2 separate regions of the Homo sapiens genome follow, and region 2 is linked to region 1. Evidence: fine-mapped expression QTL. A gene starts in region 1. The other region holds a variant in brackets. All regions are shown on one strand. Distances are from middle to middle.

Evidence for each region. PIP is the estimated chance that this variant, and not a neighbour inherited with it, causes the effect.
Region 2: its variant is fine-mapped to the expression of CLIP2 in monocytes (Fairfax 2014, PIP 0.95).

The regions. Positions count from the first base shown.
Region 1 is chr7:74,283,703-74,295,670 of GRCh38, reverse strand. It overlaps CLIP2 (CAP-Gly domain containing linker protein 2), which reads right to left and starts at 6,264. Exons shown (of 17, transcript NM_003388.5): 1 at 5,937-6,264. It overlaps LOC107986742 (a long non-coding RNA gene), which reads left to right and starts at 6,364. Exons shown (of 2, transcript XR_001745024.2): 1 at 6,364-6,609. RefSeq lists silencers at 798-1,092, 5,786-5,855, 5,876-6,345 and enhancers at 4,622-5,265, 5,266-5,910, 10,648-10,887.
Region 2 is chr7:74,401,488-74,413,177 of GRCh38, reverse strand. CLIP2 (CAP-Gly domain containing linker protein 2) reads right to left here. Exons shown (of 17, transcript NM_003388.5): 16 at 11,611-11,673; 17 at 7,243-9,341. The coding sequence ends at 9,330. Among named protein-coding and RNA genes, the nearest start is that of GTF2IRD1, 47 kb to the left of the region's middle. RefSeq lists enhancers at 6,785-7,647, 7,648-8,512. The variant G/C (reference allele first, on the strand shown) is at 7,484.

The DNA of each region.
Region 1 (11,968 bases):
CACCTCAAGTCCTTTCTGGAATCAGATGAAGAACACACAAGCCCCTTTCAGATGTCTTCCCTCTCCTCTGTGGCCCCTGGCTCCAAAGAAGCTGAACATGAGCAAAGTAAAGAAACAAATGAATGGATTTGTGCAGGGAACAGCCTACATTACAAAAGGGAACAGGCTAGCGAAGTAGAAAGGTACGAGGTGGCAAAAAACCCAGACATCCAACGTTACTTCTCCCCGCCGCCAGTATAACTCCCCCAACTTCACACTCAATGTGGGAGAATGGTGAGTTTTTCACTGAGCCCCTAGACAGACACTCTACTCCCTGCTGCCCCAGCTTCTCAACTTTTCTCCCTTTGCCCCCATCATGAATGCCCTCCTTAACTGCCTCAAGCCCACCTATGCTTCAAAACTCAGCCCCAGCTGGGTGCAGTGGCTCACACCTATAATCCTAGCACTTTGGGAGGCCAAGGTGGGAGGATCGCTTGATCTCAGGGGTTTGAGACCACCCTGGGCAACACGGTGAAACCCTGTCTACAAAAAAATATAAAAATTAGCTGGGCATGGTGACATGCACTTGTAATCACAGCTAATAGAGGCTAACTAAGGTGGGATGATGGCTTGAGCCTGGGAGGTCAAAGCTGCAGTGAGCCGAGATCACGCCACTGCACTCCAGCCTGGGTGACAGAGCCAGGCCCTGTCTCAAAACAAAACAAAACAAAACCTAGCCCCAGTTCTATTCCTCCAGGAAGCCCTTCAGACTACCCCACCCACCACACCAGAGCCCAGCCTCCCTGCATAACCTTCAGATCAATATGCAGCCGTTGCCCAGCCAACAGCTCCACTAGGCATCAAAGTGTCTGGCCTTGAAATGTTTCTGGAAAGGGCTGATATTGTTTACATTGTCAGGAAGCAGGGCGGATGTCTTCCCAATTTAGTAAAAGCTTGTGGAAGCTCAATGCTGCACATTGTGAGGTGGGCAGGGGCTGGAGCACCCCCAAAAGGAGCTAGGGCAGCATCAGCCAGGTTTAGCTACAGGCAAGGGCAGACCAGCTTGAGACCTCAGGGTGACGGGGGTGACGCTGAAAAACCAGGCGCTCCTCCTGGTGAGCCGGAAATTCCGCCCTCTCATCCCAAGGGACCAAAAAGGCAAAGGAGGGAAATGAATCGGGAGCGGGTGTCGCTCAGGGCTCAGGCTAGAGTGGAAGGTATGATCCCAGCCATGGAGCAAGAAACGCTCCATCAAGACAGAAGCCGTTAAGTAGAGAAGGTCCTAAATTCAGGCCTCGTTAATAAAAACCATCTGGCCTGTTCTGCCTTCTATTCAGAAGGGAAACGTTTCATTAACATTTTGAAGCATTTCCTCTGCAAACATGAGTTTTGTATTACTGGTTCTGTTGTGACGGCCCTAGCCTTGCAGCCCAGTGAGAAGAGCCAGGATAGGAGGCTCTGGCTGGGCGCAGTGGCTCACGCCTGTAATACTAGGTCTTGAACTCCTTATCTTTTGGGAGGCCAAGGCGGGCAGATCACTTGAGGTCAGGAGTTCGAAACCAGCCTGGCCAACATGGTGAAACCCCATCTCTACTAAAACTACAAAAATTAGCCAGGCGTGGTGGCGCGTGCCTGTAATCCCAGCTACTCAGGAGGCTGAGGCAGGAGAATCACTTGAACCCGGGAGGCAGAGGTTGTGGTGAGCTGAGATCATGCCACTGCACTCCAGCCTGGGCAACAAGAGCGAAACTCCATCTCAAAAAAAAAAACAAAAAAAAAGCCCGAGTCCCACGCTGCCGGTTGGACCCAAATCTCCAGGTCCTGAAAGGAGAGAGCCTCCTCCTGTCCCGGGGCAGGGCTGGGGGAAGCCAGTGGCAGGCAGCCCTGGCCATCCCACCTGTCCTCTCCTCCCCACACTGGCCTGATCAGTGCACTCTGGTTTCTTTCAACAAATCATGCTGCAAGTCCCACATCCTGTGGCACAATGGCTAATTGACCACGGGTCTGCCTCCCCCATCAGCTCATGAACTCCCTGAATGCCCAGATTTGCTGGTCCTCACCTAACACACAACCTTCATCATCAATGCAGCCAACCAATTATCCCAACTGTGCCAGCCCCAGAGACCACGTGACCTGCCCCCCCACTAGCCGAGCAGAGGCGGGTGGGCTTCCTCATCCAGGCTGGACCAATCAGTGTCTCTCTGCACCCCAAGATGAAGGAGACCCCCACTGGGAGGTCCCGTGGACTCAGGCTACAGCCCCATTCAACACAGCCACACTCACAACCCAAGGAGACGGAGCCTGTAGGGGAAAGGAGAAGGAGACGGGACAGATGCGCTGAGAGAGGCCGAAAAAATGAAACCGCAGTCCACAGAGAGGAAAGCCAGAGGAGGAGCTGCCTGCCAGCTTCCGGGGTCCCGGGGGGCCAGGTCGCCTCCAATTGTTTGCTGCACAAGTTCTCTGTTCTCCACTCTTAAGTCCCTTTTCACTTAACCTAATTGAAGCAGGTTCCTGTTCCTTGCAACAAAATAATCCCAAAGGTATGGGATCGGAGGGCACCCCCACACCACCCTCAAAGCCAGCCCTGCTCCTCAAACCATGCCCACTCCTCACAGTTTATTAAAGGGGCCACGTCAGCCTTAGGTGAGGCAAGCCTGGGTGTGCCCAGCCTGGGAGCATGGGGAGAGCTGCAGTGGAAAGATACAGCCAACTGGGGGCGGACCCTAAAAGCTAGATAGCGTGTTTGGACTTTGCACCTGAGCAAAAGGGATAGGTGTCTGAGAAGGCAGAATCATAATTGTTCAGGGACATGAACCCGAAGAGGGTGGGTAGAATGGTGTGGCCGAAGGAAGCATGCCTCCCAGGCATACAGTAGGTGCTTAGCAAATCCATCAAGGGCAGACACAGCCACCTCTTTGTGCCAGGATATTCTTATCTGTAAAATGTAGGCAACCTTATTAAAATATCCACAAATGAAGGAATGAATTTAAAGAGCTCAGAACCAGGCCAGGCGTGGTGGCTCACGCCTGTAATCCCAGCAATTTGGGAGGTCAAGGTGGGCGGATCACTTGAGGTCAGGAGTTTGAGACCAGCTTGATCAACATGGTGAAACCCTGCCTCTACTAAAACTACAAAAAATTAGCCAGTCTTGGTGGCATGGGCCTGTAGTCCCAGCTATTCGAGAAGCTGAGGCAGGAGAATCACTTGAATCTGGGAGGTGGAGGTTGCAGTGAGCCGAGGTGGCACCACTGCACTCCAGCCTGGGCGACAGAGCAAGATGCTGTCTCAAAAAAGCTCAGAACAATTCTCCACAAAGTAAGCACTTAATATATACTTTTTTTTTCAACCTGCACAAAAGCTGAAGTTCTCACAAGAACCAATGAGCAGGGAATCTGAGGGTCACAAATGCAGCTTCCCTCCCCTGTGTATGGAAGTGGAGGTAGAGCAGGTGGTGTCAAGAGGGCAGAACTGGCTGGGTGCAGTGGCTCACGCCTGTAATACCAGCACTTTGGGAGCCTGAGGCAGGTGGATCACCTGAGGTCAGGAGTTCAAAACCAGCCTGGCCAACATGGTGAAACCCCGTCTCTACTAAAAATACTAAAATTAGCCGGACATGGTGGCACATGCCTGTAATCCCAACTACTTGGGAGGCTGAGGCAGAATTGCTTGAACCCAGGAGGCAGAGGTTACAGTGAGCCAAGATCGCGCCATTGCACTCAAGTCTGGGCAACAAGAGTGAAACTCCATTTCAAAAAAAAAAAAAAAAAAGAGGGCAGGATCAACTGTCAGGGTGGCAGGGCCAGGAGGGGAGGCCAAGAGGGAACTGGGGGACCACACGTGGGCAGGCCTGCCAGGTGGGGAGCAGGGACAACTGGGGCTGTGGGGAGATGGCCTTTCTATCACCAAGGGAGGCAGGACCAGGGAGGAGGCTGCAGTGAGGCAGAGAACAGCAGGTGCCGGGTCAGGGCTAACCAGCAAGGGTGCTGAAGAAGGACAAACAGCCTGGAAGGGGCACGAGCCTCCTCTCCCTGAAACGTGTGTGAGTGGGGCCAGGAAGCCACTCTGTACGGCAGCAACAACACTTATAGGACATCTACTCTGTCACAGGGCACACAGTTCTCCTAACAACCCTAAAAGCCAGATACCATAAGGATCCCAATTTTACAGATGAGGATGTCGAGGCAGAGAGAGATGCAATGTGCAAGGTCACATAGCTAGGGAGTGGCAGAGCTGGGATTTGAACCCGGGCTGTTAAGCTCCAGCATCTGAACTCTTCACCGCCAAGGTAGACAGCAGATGCCGGAAAGCGATTACTGCTCCTTGGAGTAAATTCCCCCTGCTGGGACTTTGGGCTCTGAGTGCAGAATTCCAGGCACCACCTTCCCAGCCTGCACGGTGCTGAGGGCTGGAGTTTGCAGGTGCACACAGGTGTGTGTGGAGGAGGCTCCTCCCAGGCGCCTCCACCTGCCTCTTCTGCCTTTGGAGCCCCTCTCCATCTCCACCGCCTCCACCTGTCCTGAAGCCAGAATCCCATCATTCCCCCGCAAGGCACTGCAGACAAGAATGCATCCTGTGCTCAACGCAGGTCTAAGTTCCTTAAATCCTAAGCTGTTTCTCTAACCCAATAGCCTCCTTTTCTGACTCCAAGCCCTTATTCACGCTATTTCTCCTGCACGAAACCCCCTTCAGGCAACCTGGCAGCAAACTTCTGCAAGATGCTCTATGAAGCTTCCTGGTCTGCCCCATCCTCCAGGGGACCCCCTCTATGCCCCCAGCTTCCCCACTAATGCACTCATCAACCCCCGGGGCTGCACTTTTTGGGGACACCGAGGCTGCTGTCCTGTGGACCAGCCAGCCCCTAGAAGTGCCAGGCCAGGTAACAGCAGCTGAATGAAGGGCTTATTGTTTACATTTACAACCGAAAGGGAAGAGGCTTCTGAAGCACACACGTGGTGCTCCCCGCACCCTCCTCCTCCTCTGCCCACAGCCCTAGGCCACCCCACCCACCTCCCTCAGGCATCGCGCAAGAGTGACGGCAGACCCCCTCATCCCAGACCCCCACTTCTCACCCAGAAGTGAGAGGAGGGGTCTCAGACGTTGGGGGACACACTGCTGGGTGGGTGATTTCCCCCCAAGGTGCTCCCTCTGCCCGTCCTTCCCAGGGTGGGGCTGGGGCCTGCGTGGCAGTGCCCAGTGGGCACCCGCTCGGCCCAAGCTCTGCCTGAAAGGTCCAAACGGGCGGGCCCTGAAGGTTCAGCCAAGCATCCTCCGCGGCCGCCGCCCCTCCCCGGGAGGAGGGCAGAAAATCTGCTGCCTCACCAGCCACCAGCGCCAGCTTGGGGGGACACCCCCTGAGAGAAGCCGCCCGCCTCAATCTCCTCCTACCCCACCTCAGCCAAGCACTTCAACCAAGTTTTGCAAAGGCCATCGGCCAGGCGACCCCAGAGGGTGTAGCAGGGAGGAGAGGGGGGCAGTCCCTGTTCTCCCAGACCCCAGGTTTGGAGATGGGGGCTGCATGGCCGCGCCCACCAGGCTGTGCTCCCCAGGCTCTGTGAGCCCAGAGAGCCCTGCGGCGCGTCCAGCCGTCTTGCTCTGCCCTTGGAAGGGGGTACGGGCGACCCTCCAACAGAAGGGCCAAACCCCCGTCCGAGGGTAGGGACCCCGATGAGGCTGGTGATGCCTTCAACAGGGGGACCCGCAGCCCGGGAATAGCCCCCAACCCTGGCACCCCAAGCAGTGCCCCCTCCTCTCCTACAAGCAACGGGGAAGTTGGGGCACACCCCAGCCAGCTCCCGCCCACGCCCACCGGCCGGCCTCGAACCCTCCCGCCCCCGCCCACGCCCCGACAATGCCTCCGGGCCCGCAGCCCCGCTTTCGGCCAGGCCGCCGCCCCCCGCATCTCTCCGTCCTTTGTTGCCCGCGCGACCCCCTCCCTCGGCCCCTCCAGCAGCCCCTACCTTCGTCCTTCCAGCATCAGGCTAAGCGGCGGGAGGCCCGGAGAGCCCCGGCCTCCTCCTCTCGGGCCCGGGCGCGCTGGGGGGCGAGGATGCTGCGGCCCCTCCCTGCGCGGCGCTGCCCACCGGCTGCACCCCCTCCTGGCGCCGGGGATCCCCGCGATAGGTGCTCAGGGCCCGGGCCTCGCGCCACGTCTCTGGGAAGGCGGGAGGCGCGCACCGAGGCCGCCCAGCAGCCGCCTGCGCGCCCCGCGGCCGAGCCGAGCTGAGCGCCCGCGGAGCCAGCGGAGCCAGCGGAGCCAGCGGCCCGGCTCCGGGAGGGAACAAAAGGGGCCGGCGCAGGGGCGGGCGCGGGAGGGCGGGGCCTGGGGCGGGCGGGAGGGGGGGGCGGGTCAGGCGCGCGTGGGCGGCCTCGCGGTTTTCAGGCCTCAGTGCCTCGCGGAAAGCAGGCGGGCGGGCGGAAAACGCGGAGCAACCTCTTCCCCCTCTCCCCGCTCCATCTCCTTCCCTTCCCAGGCCGCAGCTGTCCTTTGTGGGGCGTCCAGGGTTCGCCCACATCCACCTCCGCGCTGGGCACCTGGTGGTGCTTACATCGCGTTTGGTGAAACGCATCCTCCAGCCATGCTATGCTTGCAAAGATGTCTCTGGTCATTGGGAAGGACGGCAGCTTGGGAAGGTGAGATGCTGTTGGCGCTGGACAGAAAGGATGAGGAGGGGGACAGTGCAGCTGGGGCGAAAACTTCAGGTCTGTGTTGGGGCCAGCGTGGGTGGGGAACTGTGGCACAGGGTCTCATGGTTATCAAGGATCTCATAGCCTGGGCAGTGTCTCACGCCTGTAATCCCAGCACTTCAGGAAGCCAAGGCGTGCAGATCGCCTGAGGCCAAGAGTCCGAGAACAACCTGGGCAACGTAACCTTCGTCTCTACAAAAAATACAAAAATTAGCTGGGCGCGCGCCTGCGGTCCCAGCTACTGGGGAGGCTGGGGTGGGAGGATCGCTGGAGCCCAGGAGGTCGAGGCTGCAGTGAGTCATGATCAAGCCACGGCCCTTCAGCCTGGGTGACAGAGCGAGACTCCGTCCCAAAAGAAAAAAAAAAAAGGATCTCATGGTGATCAGCTTCCAAGATACAAATGAACCCTCCCCAGGACAGGATGCATGTACTGCTATTTCAGAGGAGTTGAGGCAGCTGCCAGGTCCCCTCCTGCGTGGAGAGGCAGATGCCAAGTGACAGCTCAGGAACTAAACAGTGACCAAGCCCCAGCCCCTGTCCATGCCCAGGCTGCGGTTGGCTTCTGTGGCTTGGTTTCCCTCTGTCCCCCCTTGATAAGCTCGCCTGGATGCCTTTGACCTAGCTGGCCGTTCTACCAGTCCTGCCCTGCCCCCTTTCTCTGTTTGACAAATCATATTCCCCCTTCAAAGCACAGCTTAAATGTCCCTGCTTTTCCCTTGAGTGCAGGAATGTGGGTGTTGGGGGAGGTTGTGGTCTGTATGGTGAGACCACTGTTCTGCGGGAGAGAAGTGCCACATACGATCTTGTTCCTATCCCCTAAGGGACCCAGTGCAATGCTTGGCAGAGGGTAGACATCCAGTAATATTTGTTGAATGAATGAATGAACTTACTAAGTTAACATTACCACCCCTCAACTGTCTTGGTATCCATAATCTTTGAGAAGTGAGTGAACCTTTTTTTAGAGAAGGGGTCTCACTCTGTCACCCAGGCTGGAGTGCAGTGGTGTGATTACAGCTCACTGCAGCCTCAAACTCCCAGGCTCAAATGATCCTCCTGCCTCAGCCTCCAGAGTAGCTGGGACTACGGGCATGCACCATGCCCGGCTAATTTTTTGTGTTTTTTATAGAGATGGGGTCTCATTATGTTGGGGTCCAGGCTGGTCTTAAACTCTTGGCTTCAGATGATCTTCCCACCTCAGCCTCCCAAAGTGCTGGGATTACAGCTGTGAGCCACCGTGCCTGGCCTAAACATTTTGACCTCAGTTTCCCCATCTGTAAATTGGGGAGAGTGTTTCAATTCAGTTCAGCGAACATGCAATGCTGTAATGATGGAGGCTGGGCATGGGGTCAGCCCTGAGGGGGTGCCCAGTTGGTGTGGAGAGCCAGACTTGGAGACTAATAAGGGAGGAGGTTCAGAGTGAACTCCAGAAAGACTGGGCTTCTGTAGGAGGTGTGAACCCATAGGGAGGGAGGGGACTCAGGGTGGAGAGGGCAGTGTTCAGGAAACAGGGAGCTAATTGTTCCTTGTGGCTGGGATGCATAACCTGTATATCAACAGTTATAAACCAGCCAGGCACAGTGGCTCACACCTGTAATCCCAGCACTTTAGGAGGTGGTGGCGGGCAGATAACCTGAGGTCAGGAGTGCGAGACCAGCCTGGCCAACGTGATGAAACCCCATCTCTACAGAAGATGCAAAAAATAGCTGGGTGTGGTGGTACATGCCTGTAATCCCAGCTACTCGGGAGGGTGAAGCTTGAGAATGGCTTGAACCCAGAAGGCGAAGGTTGCAGTGAGTGGAGATCATACCACTACACTCCAGCCTGGGCAACAGAAGGGATGGGATGGGATGGGACGGGACGGGACGGGATGGGGCAGGGATTTGCCAAGGTGACATGGGTCTTGCTGGGATGTACCTGAGCTCACCAGCCCCTGCCCAGCAGATCTAGCCTCCCACATGTGCCTCAGGAGGTAGGCAGGGGCCCCCAACCTTCACAGGTACTGCCTCCCTCACTGATGGCCCCCAGTATTATTCAGAGCAACAGCCTGCGGTCAACAGACCTTACCTGGCCGCTGGTGAGTGGAGCTTCAAAGAGCAAGTCACCTGAGAGGGACACCTTTTGTTCTTGCTCCAGATGAGAGAAGACAGGCTTCTGTCTTGTTACAGTTTGCATTTGGGGGGCCGGGCACAGTGGCTCACACCTGTAATCCCAGCACTTTGGGAGGCCAAGGCGGGCGGATCACAAGGTCAGGAGTTCGAGACCAGCCTGGCCAACATGGTGAAACTCCGTCTCTACTTAAAATACAAAAAATTAGCCGGGCATGGTGGCACACACCTGTAATCCCAACTACTTGGGAGGCTGAGGCAGGAGAATCACTTGAACCCGGGAGGCGGAGGTTGCAGTGAGCTGAGATCGCACCATTGCACTCCAGCCTGGGCAACAAGAGCAAGACTTTGTCTCAAAAAAAAAAAAAAAAAAAAGTTTGCGTTCGAGTTTTTCTGCTTCTTTCAGTAGATGAACCTGATGCTGTCTGATGTGAGGGTTGGGGTCCTGGCCTTGGCCCCTGCCCTGGCATCAGGCCTCCGTGATGGGTGGGGAGGCAGGCGGGGGGATCTGGAGGGGGTGTTCTCCCAGCCGACCTCTCACCCAGGCCTTTTGTCTCCACTGAAACTGCTGATTTGGTCATTTTCTTGCTGACGCCGGCTGTGACCAGCAGCCTCACGGGAGGATTTTTCATGGGAAGAGAGAGTTGGGAATAATTTTCGAGCCAGAGCTGAATTCTCTGAGGCCTGCAATGGGCCAGCCACGGGAGAGGCCTGGGCTGCTTTGCAGGTGGCGATCTCTCTGGTATACTATTTATTTATTTATTTATTTGTTTATTTATTATTTTACTTTTTCAGGGGTAGAGACAGAGGCTTTCTATGTTGCCCAGGCTGGTCTCGAAATCCTGGCCTCAAGTGATCCTCCCACCTCGGCCTCCCAAAGCGCTGGGATTACAGGCTCTGGGCACCACGCCTGGCCTATTTTTATTTTTTTATTTTTCATTTTAGAATCCATAGGACAGCTACAGGATGGGATATGTTTGCAGTGTCTGAACTGCTGTTTACAAGGCATTTGTTATAATGTGGGGAAACAGTTACGTATTTACACCCACCAGGAAAATACACTTCATGAAACTGCGGATATGGAGCCAAGCTTAGTGCCTCATGCCTGTCATCCCAGCGAGTGGGGAGACTGAGGTGGGAGGATCACTTGAGCCCACGAGTTGGAGGCTATAGTGAGTTATGATCATACCATTGCACTCCAGCCTGGGCAACAGAGCAAGATCCCATTTTATTTTATTTTATTTTTAAAATTGTGGGCCAGTTGTGGTGGCTCATGCCTGTAATCCCAGCACTTTGGGAGGCCAAGGCAGGAGGATTGCCTGAGCCCCAGAGTTGGAGACCAGCCTGGGCAACATGATGAAACCCTGTCTCTACTAAAAACACAAAAAGCTAGCCAGGCATGGTGGCACATGCCCGTAATCCCAGCTACTCAGGAGGCTGATGCAGGAGAATCGCTTGAACCCGGGAGGCGGAGGTTGTAGTGAGCCAAGATCGTACCACTACAGTCCAGCCTCGGTGAAAAAGTGAGACCTTGTCTCAAAAAAACTGGTAACTGTGGTGGGCTTTGGGTGGGGGGAATCCGTGGGACTTTTTTCTTCCCTTTTCTGAATTTTTCTGCAACAGGCATGTGCTGCTTTGGGGACTAATAAAAGAAACTTAAACCCAAACCGCTTCTGCTGAAATGATTGGATGTTGCTGTGACCTTTCTGCCTAGCAGAGCAGAGGCTGCACAGGGTGGCAGGTGGCACAGGCTGGGAATTGCATCACCACGGAGATACCAGCTAAGGCTATCACGCCGGTGGCCACACCCTTACTTTCAACTGCATGGACTTTGCCTTTATCCAGTTCTCCCCACCTTGGGGTATATCGGTCTTGGAGGAAGCTCCGGTACTTCCCTCTGGCTTGGTACAGTGCTAGTGGAAACAGCCCAGTGGTAAAGGAAGGCCATAGTAGCTCTCTGCTGCCAGGTGATAGGGGGACTTCCCCTCGTTGGGGGTTTCCAAGATGCATGGGGGCTTTTTCTATGCAGCCTCCCCGGATTTCCCAAGGGAAGATAACAAGGCCTCCCCTGCTGTGTGAAGGAAAGCTGACATGGCTGAGGATTGTTACGAGAGAAGCTTAAGCTTAAAACTGCATGAGGCCGGGTGTTGTGGCTCACGCCTGTAATCACAGCACTTTGGGAGGTGGAGGCTGGCAGATCACCTGAGGTTGGGAGTTCGAGACCAGACTGACCAACATGGAGAAACCCCTTCTCTACTAAAAATACAAACTTAGCCGGGTGTGGTGGCTCATGCCTGTAATCCCAGGTAATTGGGAGGCTGAGGCAGGAGAACCGCTTGAACCCAGGAGGCGGAGGTTGCAGTGAGCCGAGATCACACCATTGCACTCCAGCCTGGGCAACAAGAGAGAAACTCTGTCTCAAAACAAAAACAAAAACAAAAAAACTTCGCATGGATTGTGTTGATAAATGAAGACCACCCCAAAGAGAACAAGCAAAGCCTGCTTATTCAGACCTTGTTATTGCAAGAGAAGTGGGCCAGCAAAGGCCAGCAAAAATTTTAAAAAGCTTTATTTATGTTTTGATATAGGGTCTTGCTATGTTGCCCAGGCTGGTCTTGAACTCCTGGGCTAAAGCAATCCTCCATGCCTCAGCCTCCCAAGTAGCTGGGATTACAGGCACGCACCACCGCTCCTCACTTAGGGAAAACACTCCCAACTTCCTCCTGCTGGGGGAAGTCTCTAAAGGTGCTGGCTAAGGGCCCCTCTGCAGTCTGTCAGTTTCCAGCCTCAAGACCGTCCTCCACAGCTGCTATTACTCACTTAGCCCCGCAGTCCCTGAGTCCTATGGTTGCACATCTGTGCGTTATGTCACCCGGCCCAAGGCAGTGACACGCACTGAAGCTTGTTTATTCCGAGTTTCCAGGAGCCATCTGCCCGGGGACACTGCCCTGGACCAGGCTGGGCTCTTTCTCCCCTGATTCCTGCAGGGCTGCTCCCAGGACTCCTCTGCAAAACCACACTTTCTCTCTCAGGCCAGGTCTAAGGGGGCATCTCTTCTGGGTTCTTTTGCATCCTTCTGATACTTTTTTTTTTTTTTTTTTGAGATGGAGTCTCGCTGTCACCCAGGCTGGAGTGCAGTGGCACAATCTTGGCTTGCTGCAACTTTCGCCTCCTGGGTTCAAGCAATTCTCCTGCCTCAG
Region 2 (11,690 bases), 120 kb before region 1:
ATCATCACCATATCCAGGTTTCTTCTATCCATAATGCTTACAATTTTCAAATGTCTGAGATGTCATGTCTTCTAGATTTTCCTGGAAGAATATTTTCTTTTTCAAAAAAAGGTCTTGTTCTGTCACCAAGGCTGGAGTGCAGTGACACGATCATAACTCACTGCAGCCTCCAATTCCTGGGCTCAAGTGATCCTCCTGCCTCAGCCTCGCTAGTAGCAGGGACTACAAGTGCACACCACCATCCCCAGCTAATTGTTTTATTTTTTTGTAGAGATGGGGTCTCACCATGTTGCACAGGCTGGTCTCAAACTCCTGGACTCAAGTGATCCTCCCACCTTGTCCTCTCAAAGCACTGAGATTACAGGCATGAGTCACTGCACCCACCCCTGGGAGAATATTTCCTAAGAGTGTGCTCTATCTGGGTATTTTTCACTGTGGAACCTCAAGCAGGGTCTGGGGTCTGGGCTGTCTTGTAATTTTCTTTTTCTTTCTTTCTTTTTTTTTTTTTTTGGAGACACAGTCTCACCCGGTCACCCAGGCTGGAGTGCAGTGGCGAGAACTCAGCTCATTGAAACCTCACCTCCCGAGTTCAAGTAATTCTTTTGCCTCAGCCTCCAGAGCTCCAGAGTAGCTGGGACTACAGATGTGCACCATCACCCCCAGATAATTTTTGTATTTTTAGTAGAGACAGGGTTTCGCCATATTGGCCAGGCTGGTCTCGAACTCCTGACCTCAAGTGATCCACCTGCCTTGGCCTCCCAAAGTGCTGGGTTTACAGGCATGAGCCTCCCCGCCCGGATAGTCTTGTCATTTTCTTCAGCCTCAGATGTCAGAATCTTAGTGGAGGCGAGGGATAATAGCAGATAAGAGCACTCTCCAACCTTCACTCATCCCTTTACTAACGCCTTACAGCACAGTGGAACTGCTGGTGAGAAAACAGGAACAGATTGGAGCCCCAATCCAGGCTGATCTTGCTGAACCACAGACCCAGCCAGCTGTTGCTGGCCCCCTAGATCCACATTCAATCCCCTACTGTTTTTTTTTAAAAACAGTTTCACTTTTTTTTTTTTTTTTTTTTTTGTATTTGAGACAGAGTCTCACTCTGTCACCCAGGCTGAAGTGCAGTGGCACAACCTTGGCTCAATGCAACCTCCGCCCCCCCCCGGGTTCAAGCGATTCTCGTGCCTCAGCCTCCTGAGTAGGTGGGATTACAGGTACCCGCCACCATGCCCAGCTAATTTTTTTTTTTTTTTTGTATTTTTAGTAGAGACGGGGTTTTGCCATGTTGGCCAGGGTGGTATTGAACTCCTGGCCTCAAGTGATCCACCTGCCTCAGCCTCCCAAAATGCTGCGATTACAGGCGTGAGCTGCTCCCAGCCCCCGTACAACTTTTAAATCAAGTGACATCAAACAGATTCATTCACCCTCTGCCCACACCCTGCAGTCTAGTGCAGTTGCTCAAACAGTTCTTGGTAGGTTTTTCCTACTTTATTCTGTTAACATGATAAATTGCACTGATTGAGTTTTTTCCCTGAAATTATTTGAACCATTAAAAATATTCATTTATTACTGTTCCAAATTGTATTCCTAATACACTTTGGTGTTATTGTTATTTTTATTTATTATTATTATTATTATTATTATTATTTTGAGATGAAGTCTCGCTCTTGTCCCCCAGGCTGGAGTGCAATGGCACGATCTCAGCTCACTGCAACCTCCGCCTCCCAGGTTCAAGCAATTCTCCTGCCTCAGCCTCCCAAGTAGCTGGGATTACAGGTGCCTGTCACCACGCCCAGCTAATTTTTGTATTTTTAGTAGAGATGGGGTTTCACCATGTTGGCCAGGCTGGTCTCAAACTCCTGATCTCAGGTGATCTGCCCGCCTTGGCCTCCCAAAGTGCTGGGATTACAGGTGTGAGCCACCATGCCCGGCCTTTGATGTTATTATTAACAAATAATAATTTTTCATACTGGTATACATGTGAAACCATGGCAACTATCATAATGTAATTTTTTTTTTTTGAGACAGGGTCTCACTCTGTTGCCCAGGCCGGAGTGCAGTGATGAAATCATGGCTCACTGCAGCCTTTAACTCCTGGGCTCAAGCTATCCTCTCATTTTGGCCTCCCAAAGTGCTGGGATTACAGATGTGTGCCACCATACCCGGCTAGATTTTCCTTTCCTCCTTCCATCCCTCTCTCCCTCCCTCTCTCCTTCCTTTCCTCCCTCCCTCATTTTCCTTTTCTCTCTCTTTCTCTCCTTCTCTCCTTCTCTCCTTCTCTCTTTCTTTCTTTTAGACAAGGTCTCACTCTGTTGCCCAGGCTGGAGTGCAGTGGTATGATCACAGCTCACTGCAGCCTCAATCTCCCACACTCAGGTGATCCTCCCATCTCAGCCTCCAAGGTAGCTGGGCATACACCACAGGCATGCACCACCACACCTGGCTCATTGTTTCCCCCCATGGAGTCTTGCTCTGTCACCCAGGCTTGAGTGCAGTGGTGTGATCTCAGCTCACTGCAACCTCTGCCTCCTGGGTTCAAGTGACTGTCGTGCCTCAGCCTCCCAAGTAGCTGGGATTACAGGCACCCGCCTCCATGCCCTGCTAATTTTTAAAAATATTTTTATAGAGAGACAAGATTTCACCATGTTGCCCAGGCTGGTCTCAAACCCCTAAGCTCAAGTGATCTGCCTGCCTCGCCCTCCCAAAGTGCTGGGATTATAGGCTTGAGCCATGGCGACTGATCCGGCTAATTTTTAATATTTTGTAGAGATGAGGTCTCACTGTGTTGCCCAGACTGATCATGAACTGCTGGGTTCAAGCAATCCTCCCCCACCTCAGCATCCCAAAGTGCTGTCATTACAGGCATGAGCCACCATGTCCAGCCTTTTCTTCTTTTTTTAAGTTTCCTTGTTAGTAGACAAGGATAGCTTTCTTTTTCTTTTTCTTTTTTTTGAGACAGTCTCATTCTGTCACCAGGCTGGAGTGCAGTGGTGCGATCTTGGCTCACTGCAACCTCGGCCTCCCGGGTTTGAGCCATTCTCCTGCCTCAGCCTCCCTAGTAGCTGGGACTACAGGCGCCTGCCACCACGCCCAGCTAATTTTTGTACTTTTAGTAGAGACGGGGTTTCACTGTGTTGGCCAGGATAGTCTCGATCTCTTGACCTTGTGATCCGCCCGCCTCGGCCTCCCAAAGTGCTGGGATTACAGGCAGGAGCCACAGCGCCCAGCTTCTTTTTCAGAAAGTATCTTAGTGAGGTGAAGGGCACATAACGTTAATTTAATCACTGCATAGAGGCCCTAGTACATTTACAATGTCATACAGCTACCACCTCTACCATTTCCTTCCTTTTTGTTGTTTTTTACTGTTTCTTGGTCAGGTGAATTCCAAAACATTTCCATCACGCAGTTCCTCACCATTTTTTCCTTAGCCCTTGGCCTCTGGCAATCGGCAATCTGCCTGTTCTCCATGGATTCGTCTTTGTGGATATTTCACGTAAGTGCAATCATATAGTACGTGACTGTGTCTCCCTGTTTTCACTTAACAGGATGCTTTGGAGGTATATCCATGTTGTAGCAAATATCAGTGTTTCATTCTTTTTTTTTTGGTGGGGGGGCAGACAGAATCTTGCTCTGTCGCCAGGCTGGAGTACAGTGGTGCAATCTCGGCTCACTGCAACTTCTGCCTCCTAGGTTCAAGTGATTCCACTGCCTCAGCCTCCCAAGTAGCTGGGACTACAGGCGTGCGCCACCACGCGTGGCTAATTTTTTGTATTTTAGTAAAGATGAGTTTTCACCATGTTGGCCAGGATGGTCTCGATCTTATGACCTTGTGATCTGCCTGTCTTGGCCTCCCAAAGTGCTGGTGGCTTGAGCCACTGCGCCCGGCCCATTCTATTTTTTTTTTTTTTTTTGAGACGGAGTCTCGCTCTGTTGCCCAGGCTGGAGTGCAGTGGCGTGATCTTGGCTCCCTGTCACCTCTGCCTCCCGGGTTCAAGCCATTCTCCTGCCTCAGCTCCCTGAACAGCTGGGATTACAGACCCACACCACCAACCCAGCTAATTGTTTTGTACTTTTAGTAGAGATGGGGTTTCACCATGTTGGCCAGGCTGGTCTCGAACTCCTGACCTCAAGTGATTTGCCTGCCTCAGCCTCCCAAAGTGCTGGGATTACAGGTGTGAACCACCACGCCTGGCCGTTTCATTCCTTTTTATGGCCAAATAATGTTCCATTATATGGATAGACCACATGTGGTTTATCCATTTGTCTGTTGATTGGACCTTTATTTCCACTTTTTGGCTATTACAAATAATGCTGCTATGAACATGTGTGTACACAATTTTCTGTGGAAATGCTTTAATTTATCTTGAGTATATAGTTAGGAGTAAAACTTCTGGGTCATATGGTAATTCTGTGTTTAACATTTTGGGGCTGGGCATGGTGACTCATGCCTGTAATCCCAGCCCTTTGGGAAGGGTGAGGCGGGAGGATTGCTTGAGCCCAGGAATTTACAACCAGCCTGAGCAACAAACATAGTGAGACCCCTGTCTCTAAAAAAAAAAAAAAAAAAAAAAAAAAAAGTAAACAAACATACTTTGAGGAACTGGTGCAGTGGCTCACGCCTGTAATCCCAGCACTTTGGGAGGCCAAGGTGGGTGGATCACTTGAGGTCAGGAGTTCAAGACCAGCCTGGCCAACAGGGCGAAACCCTGTCTCTACTAAAAATACAAAAATTAACTGGGTGTGGTGGCACACACATGTAATCCCAACTACTTGGGAGGCTGAGACAGGAGAATCACTTGAACCTGGGAGGCAGAGGTTGCGGTGAGCCAAGATCGTGCCACTGGACTCCAGCCTGGGCGACAGAGTGAGACTCCGTCTTAAAAAACAAAACAAAACAAAACATATTTTGAAGAACTGCCGAACTTTTCTGAAGCAGCTGCCCCATTTTACATTCCCACCAGCAATATATGAGAGTTTAAATTTCTCTACATCCTTGTCAACACTTGCTACTATCTTTTAAAAAGTTTTAGGCATCCTAGTGGGTATGAAGTGGTATCTCTTTGTGGTTGTGATTTGCATTTCCCTAATGACTCATGTTGTTGAGCATCTTTTCATGTGTTATTGATCATTTGTACATCTTCTTTGGAGCAAGATGTATTCAGATCCTTTACCCATTTTGATTTTTTTATTTTTAGAGTTGGAGTCTCACTCTGTGGTCCAGGCTGGAGTGCAGTGGTGTGATCATGGCTCACTGCAGCCTCAAACTCCTGGGCTCAAGCGATCCTCCTGCCTCAGCTTCCCAAGTAATTGGAACTACAGGTGCATACCACCAAACCCAGGTAATTGTTTATTTATTTTTATTTTTTATATATTTTTTGAGATGTAGTCTTGCTCCGTTGCCTAGGCTGGAATGCAGTGGCGCGATCCTGGCTCACTGCAACCTCAGTCTCCCAGGTTCAAGCGATTCTCCTGCTTCAGTCTCCCAAGTAGCTGGGATTACAGGCGCACGCTACCACGCCTGGCTAATTTTTGTATTTTTAGTAGAGACAGGGGTTTCACCATGTGGACCAGGCTGGTCTCAAAGTCCTGACCTCAGGTGATCTACCAGCCTCGGCCTTCCAAAGTGCTGGGATTACAGGCATGAGCTACCATGCCCGGCTTTTTTTTTTTTTTTTTAAAGAGACAACGTTCTTGGTATGCTACCTAGGCTGGTCTTGAACTCCTGGGCTCAAGTGATCCTCCCGCCTCGGCCTCCCAAAGTGCTGGGATTATAAGCATGAGCCACCTGGCCCAATGTTCGTTTTCTAGTTTGGGTCATTGTACTGCAGTTATGTGCGATGTTAATGTCAGGGGGAGCTGGGAAAGAATGTATGGGAATGCCACTATTTTTTGCAATTATTCTGTAAGTCTAAAATGATCTCAAAATCAAAGAGTTAAAAAAGAGTTGGGCAGGCGCAATGGCTCATGCCTGTAATCCTAACACTTTGGGAGGCTGAGGTGAGAGGGTTGTTGGAGCCCAGGAGTTGGAGGCTGCAGTGAGCTATGATGGAGACTTTGCCTTCCAGCCTTGGTGACAGAGCAAGGCCCTATGTCTAAAAAAAAACAAAAACAAAACAACAACAACAAAAATGGCAGGTGCAGTGGCTCATGCCTATAACATCAGCACTTTGGGAGGCCGAGGCGGGCGTATCACTTGAGGTCCAGAGTTTGAGACCAGCCTGGCCAACATAGTGAAACCCGGTCTCTACTAAAGATACAAAAATTAGCTGGGTGTGGTGGCATGTGCCTGTAGTCCCAGCTACTCAGGAGGCTGAGGCACAAGAACTTGGGAGGTGGAAGTTGAATTGAGCTGAGAACGCGCCACTGCACTCCAGCCTGGGCAACAGAGTGAAACCCTTGTCTCTACAAAATAATAATAATAATAATAATAATTTTAAAGAACACATTTTGAGGAACTGATGTGGTGGCTGACTCCTGTAATCCCAGCACTTTGGGAGGCCGAGGTAGGCAGATCATTTGAGGTCAGTAGTTCAACACCAGCCTGGCCAACATGGTGAAACCCCATCTCTACTAAAAATACAAAAATTAGCCAGGTGTGGTGGCACGCACCTGTAGTCCCAGCTACTTGGGAGGCTGAGGCACGAGAATTGATTGAACCTGAAAGGCGGAGGTTGAAGTGAGCAGAGATCGTGACACTGCACTCCAGCCTGGGTGACAGAGTGAAACTCCATCTTGGGGAGAAAAAAAAAATTCTCATTCTCTCTTCCAGGGGGGCAACCTCCACTTGAAAGCCTATTTGACCACAAAGTTTGCAACACGTCGTGCTGTTGATCTGATCTCCGGAAAGCCTGCTGCGGGAACCGGAATTTGCCCACTGAAGCTGGAAACCGCCTCGGACTCATCACACGTGTGTGAGCGGATCCGTTACCGTTTCCATTGACTTTTTTTGCAGGTCTACTTATCCCTCCAGCAGGTTCAAATGTGAACCCAGGACCAGCCCTCTCTGGCAGCCTTTCTGGGTCTGTCCTCTGCCTGTCCTTGCTAAGGTGCCTCTCCTGGGACAAGGACAGCCCCAGATGTCTTCAGCTCCAGCCCCTCTGAGGCCGTGCCTACCTGGGAAGGAATGAGCTGGCAGAGGGCAGGATCGGGGGCCATCTCCTGGCACCAGGGTGCCCAAGAATTGGGAGAGATCGAGAAGCCCGGGGTCCCCACGGAGAGGAGGAGACAAGCCAACTGCCGGGGTCCTGGACCTGTCACAAGCTTTATTGTCCCGAGCACAGACTCGCCACACTTCAACAATTCCACTGTGGGGAGGGGAGGGGTGAATGAAGGACCTGGGGAGGGGACATGGCTGAGCCACACCCGGGCGGCCACACGGGGCGGGCTGAGAGGCCCACGGAGGCAGAAGCTCCCAAGGAAACCGCTTCTTGGACACCCGTCACCAGGAGCCCACCTCCGGGGGCTCAGCTCCTCCCGGCACCCT[G/C]CTAGATGGACCTCTGGCTGTTAGTAGACTAATCGGTGCCCCTACCGATGGGGCAGAGCTGCCTGATTTTGCTAGAAAGAGCTGTATTTGACCCTGGGTTAGGCCACTAAAGCATCGCTTCTAGACGGCTGTTAATAGAACTGCATGCGAGAGCTACCGAAAGCCAACAGGGACTGGGAGGGGGGCCGGGGGGACTGACTGTGACTCCCCGATGGGCTGCATTTGGGCAGGAACGTGAGCGCCACCTACCTGTACCAGGTGGCACTCATGAGGGCGATCTGGGCCGTTCCTATGAATTGCACACGTGTCCTGTGCGTTACGGGAAAGCCGGGATGGGGCATCGGGCTTCTCCCTCTGGTCCACTGATGGGGGAGGCCTCACAGGAAAACACTCCCTGAGCTGCCGGAGGGTGGGGCAGGGACCCCTGTGCTGATGCCGGGGTGCAAAGCTGTAAGCAACCTGTTGGTCCCCCAGCGGCGAGGTGGAGGCTGCAGGGCCAAGGCTGGCTTTTTCCACCACGCACAGGCCTGGGATAACTTAGCAGGCTTGAGGGGAAGATGGCAGGGCGAGGGGTTGGGGGAGCGCAGTTAGATTTCTCTTACCCCCAGCCCCCGTTAGGAGATGGGGCTGGAGACGCTCTGTGCAGGTGCCTGGCAAGACCAGGAAGGGATGCTCCATGTGGCAAACACACCCCTGAATGCCTGGCTGCGTGTACTTGGGTGTGTATACGCACCTCTAGGCTGTAGGAACGTTTGCAGTATCTGTAGGCACGGTCCTGCCAGGCCTGGGTCTCAGTCCCAGAAACCAAGTATGTGTCTCTGTGTGGCCTGAGCGTGGTTCACAGCAAACGCCGCCACCCACACGGTCATGCGTGCACACGTGGTCCCTCTGTGTGTGTGTGAACGTGGTGTGTACATAAGGACCCACTTAGCTGCATCTCCAGGTGGATGCAGATATTTTGGAACATCTGGTCAACCCCAGGGGAAACCGTATTACTGACCTTTGTCAAACCTGCCTAGAGCCTCCACTCTGAGCTGCCTCTGCCCTGGGCTCCGAGCCAGGGTTTGCCCAAGGTCACGGTGGGAGGTGAGGAGAGGGGTTTCCAAACCTTCATAATACTGTGTCTTTGGCCTTGGTGACATCTTCGGCCAGCAGCTTAGAGGTGTGTGTGTGTTGGTGTTGGTGGGCAGCGGGAGAAGGATCCCGTTCCCCTGCCCTCCGCCCCCGCCAACACCTTGAACCTGGGGGCCTCGCTGGGCAGGCAGGCTGGCTGAGGGGAGCTTGTACTACTGTTTGAAGAAGGTTCAGAAGGTGGGGACAAGAAGCCCTGGCGACTGCCTTGGCCTGGAAGTGGCTTCGGAAAAGGGGCCCCCACTTGGCTCTTAAAGACTGGATGCTCCCCCTTGGTGTCTGCATGGATAAACTTACCCCCTCCCCAGCCCCCGCCGGCCCCTCTGGGGAGACCCGAGGGAGAATGGGCGGAAAAAGAGGACAGGGCCGCTAAGATGGTCCTCAGGGCAGCTCCTTCTGGACAGAGGGGCCTGGCCGGATCCCCTCTGCCTCCACTGACAAACTCCAGAAGCTGCCGGGTGTCCAGGCTGAAGGTCCCCGGGTCAGGCCGGGGCTGTACCGTTCACACTCTCTGTAGAAGGCTGGGCTTGAGGAAGCGTCCTGGTCTGGCGAGGGATCGGGGTGGGGGATTGTCCGCGGCGGTGAGTACGTTATTGTTACAAACACTGTTTTGTCTCCAAAGTGACAGTCCCGGCTCCTGCCTGGAGGAGGTACTGCCGGGCAGCCGCGTGGGGCTCTGGTGTGGACTGGGCTGCTCCACAGTATCCCCTCAGGATCAGTGCTTGTCCTAGAGAGAGTAAAGGGCATCATCAGCAAGGGTCTCAGAGAGCCTGGAGGGCCAGGCGGCCAGAGGGGAGTCAGGGAGGAAAGGAGTTGGGGCCGGGTGGGGGAGGAGCATAGAGCGAACTGCATGTGCCAAGGCCCTGAGGCAGGAAGTGTCTCCCTGCTGTGTGTTTGTGGCTGTGTGAGACAGCAGGTGGGGTGGGAGGTGCTGATGGGAAGCGGAGCCGAGGGGAAGAAGCAGGTTTTTTGTTTGTTTGTGTGTTTGTTTGTTTTAAGACGGAGTCTTGCTCTGTCGCCAGGCTGGAGTGCAGTGGTCTGATCTCAGCTCACTGCAACCTTCGACTCCCTGGTTCAAGCGATTCTCCTGCTTCAGCCTCCTGAGTAGCTGGGATAACAGGCATGCGCCACCATGCCCAGCTAATTTTTGTATTTTTAGTAGAGATGGGGTTTCACCATGTTGACCAGGATGGTCTTGATCTCCTGACCTCATGATCCACCCACCTCGGCCTCCCAAAGTTCTGGGATTACAGGCATGAGCCACTGCGCCCAGCCAGAAGCAGGTTTTACAAAGAGCCCTCAGTGCCTGTACGGGGCTGGATCTCTCTCTCTTTTTTTTTTTTTTTTTTGAGACAGTCTCACTGTTGCTCAGGCTAGAGTGCAGTGGCACGATCTTGGCTCACTGCAACCTCTGCCTCCCGGGTTCAAGCGATTCTCCTGCCTCAGCCTCCCGAGTAGCTGGGACTACAGGCATGTGCCACCACACCCAGATGATTTTTTTTTTTTTGTATTTTTAGTAGAGATGGGGTTTCGCTATGTTGGCCAGGCTGGTCTCAAACTCCTGACCTCAAGTGATCCACCTGCCTTGGCCTCCTAAAGTGCTGGGATTATAGGTGTGAGCCACTGCACCTGGACAGTTTTCACATCTGTGAACTGGGATGACCCCATGTGTCTCGCAGGGTGGCCAGGAGAACAAGGCCAGGAGGACAAAATCACACTAACTCCTCTGAGGCTGGCTCTGCCCACATAACCCTGCCTGTGTCTGGAGCTTGGCAGATTCTGTGGCTGTGCTGCTCCTGTTTCTAGCGAGCATCTGTGCTCCAGGGATTCTGCAGTCAGAACTAGGTTCTCTCTCTTTCTGTGTTCTTCTTAGAGACAGGGTCTCACTTTATCACCAAGGCTGGAGTGCAGTGGCGCAATCCTAGCTCACTGCAGCCTCAAACTCCTGGGCTTGAGTGATCCTCTTGCCTTAGCCTCCTGAGTAGCTGAGGCTACAGGCATGCGCCACCACACCTAGCTAATTTTTAAAATTTTTATTACTATTTTTTGAGACAGTTTTGTGCTTGTTGCCCAGGCTGGAGTGCAATGGTGCGATCTCGGCTCACTGCAACCTCCACCTGCCAGGTTCAAGCGATTCTCCTGCCTCAGCTTCCCGTGTAGCTGGGATTACAGGTGTGCGCCACCCTACCCAGCTAATTTTGTATTTTTTTTTTTTTTTGGTTTTTTTTTTTTTTGAGATGGAGTCTCGCTCTGTCGCCCAGGCTGGAGTCCAGTGGCGCGATCTCGGCTCATTGCAAGCTCCGCCTTCCGGGTTCATGCCATTATCCTGCCTCAGCCTCCAGAGTAGCTGGAACTACAGGTGCCCGCCACCACGCCCAGCTAATTTTTTTTTGTATTTTTAGTAGAGATGGGGTTTCACCGTGGTAGCCAGGATGGTCTTGATCTCCTGACCTTGTGATCCGCCCGCCAGATGGAGTTTCACCATATTGGCCAGGCTGGTCTCAAATTCCTGACCTCAAGTGACCCACCGGCCTCGGCCTCCCAAAGTGTTGGGATTACAGACATGAGCCACTGTGCCCAGCCTTTTTAAAATTTTTTTTTTTTAATAGAGAGAGGGTCTCGCTATATTGTCCACCCTACCCGGCTAATTTTGTATTTTCAGTAGAGACGGAGTTTTACCATATTGGCCAGGCTGGTCTCAAACTCCTGGGCTCAAATGATCCTCCTGCCTTGGCCTCCCAAAGTGCTGGGGTTACAGGCGTGGGCCACTGCGCCCAACCTATAACTTTTTTAAGAAGGGAAGAAAACACAAATCAAAAAGAGCAGGGTGAATCTGGAATCAAGTTTGCCTGCAACAGCACCCTCCCTGAGGGACCCTACTGTAAAGCTTCTTGCAGAATGCATCTTTGTGTGTATTCTTAGTGACGTTTCAAGGATTTTCTCCAGAGAGGTCTGCCTGCACGGGAGGGACCTGGGAGGCCCGAGGCGCCCCTCACCTCTTGTTTCTGAGCTTTGTCCTGCTGGTGGATGCCGTTTGCAGAACCGGAATTGCCGATGGTCTGGAAGAGTTAGGGGA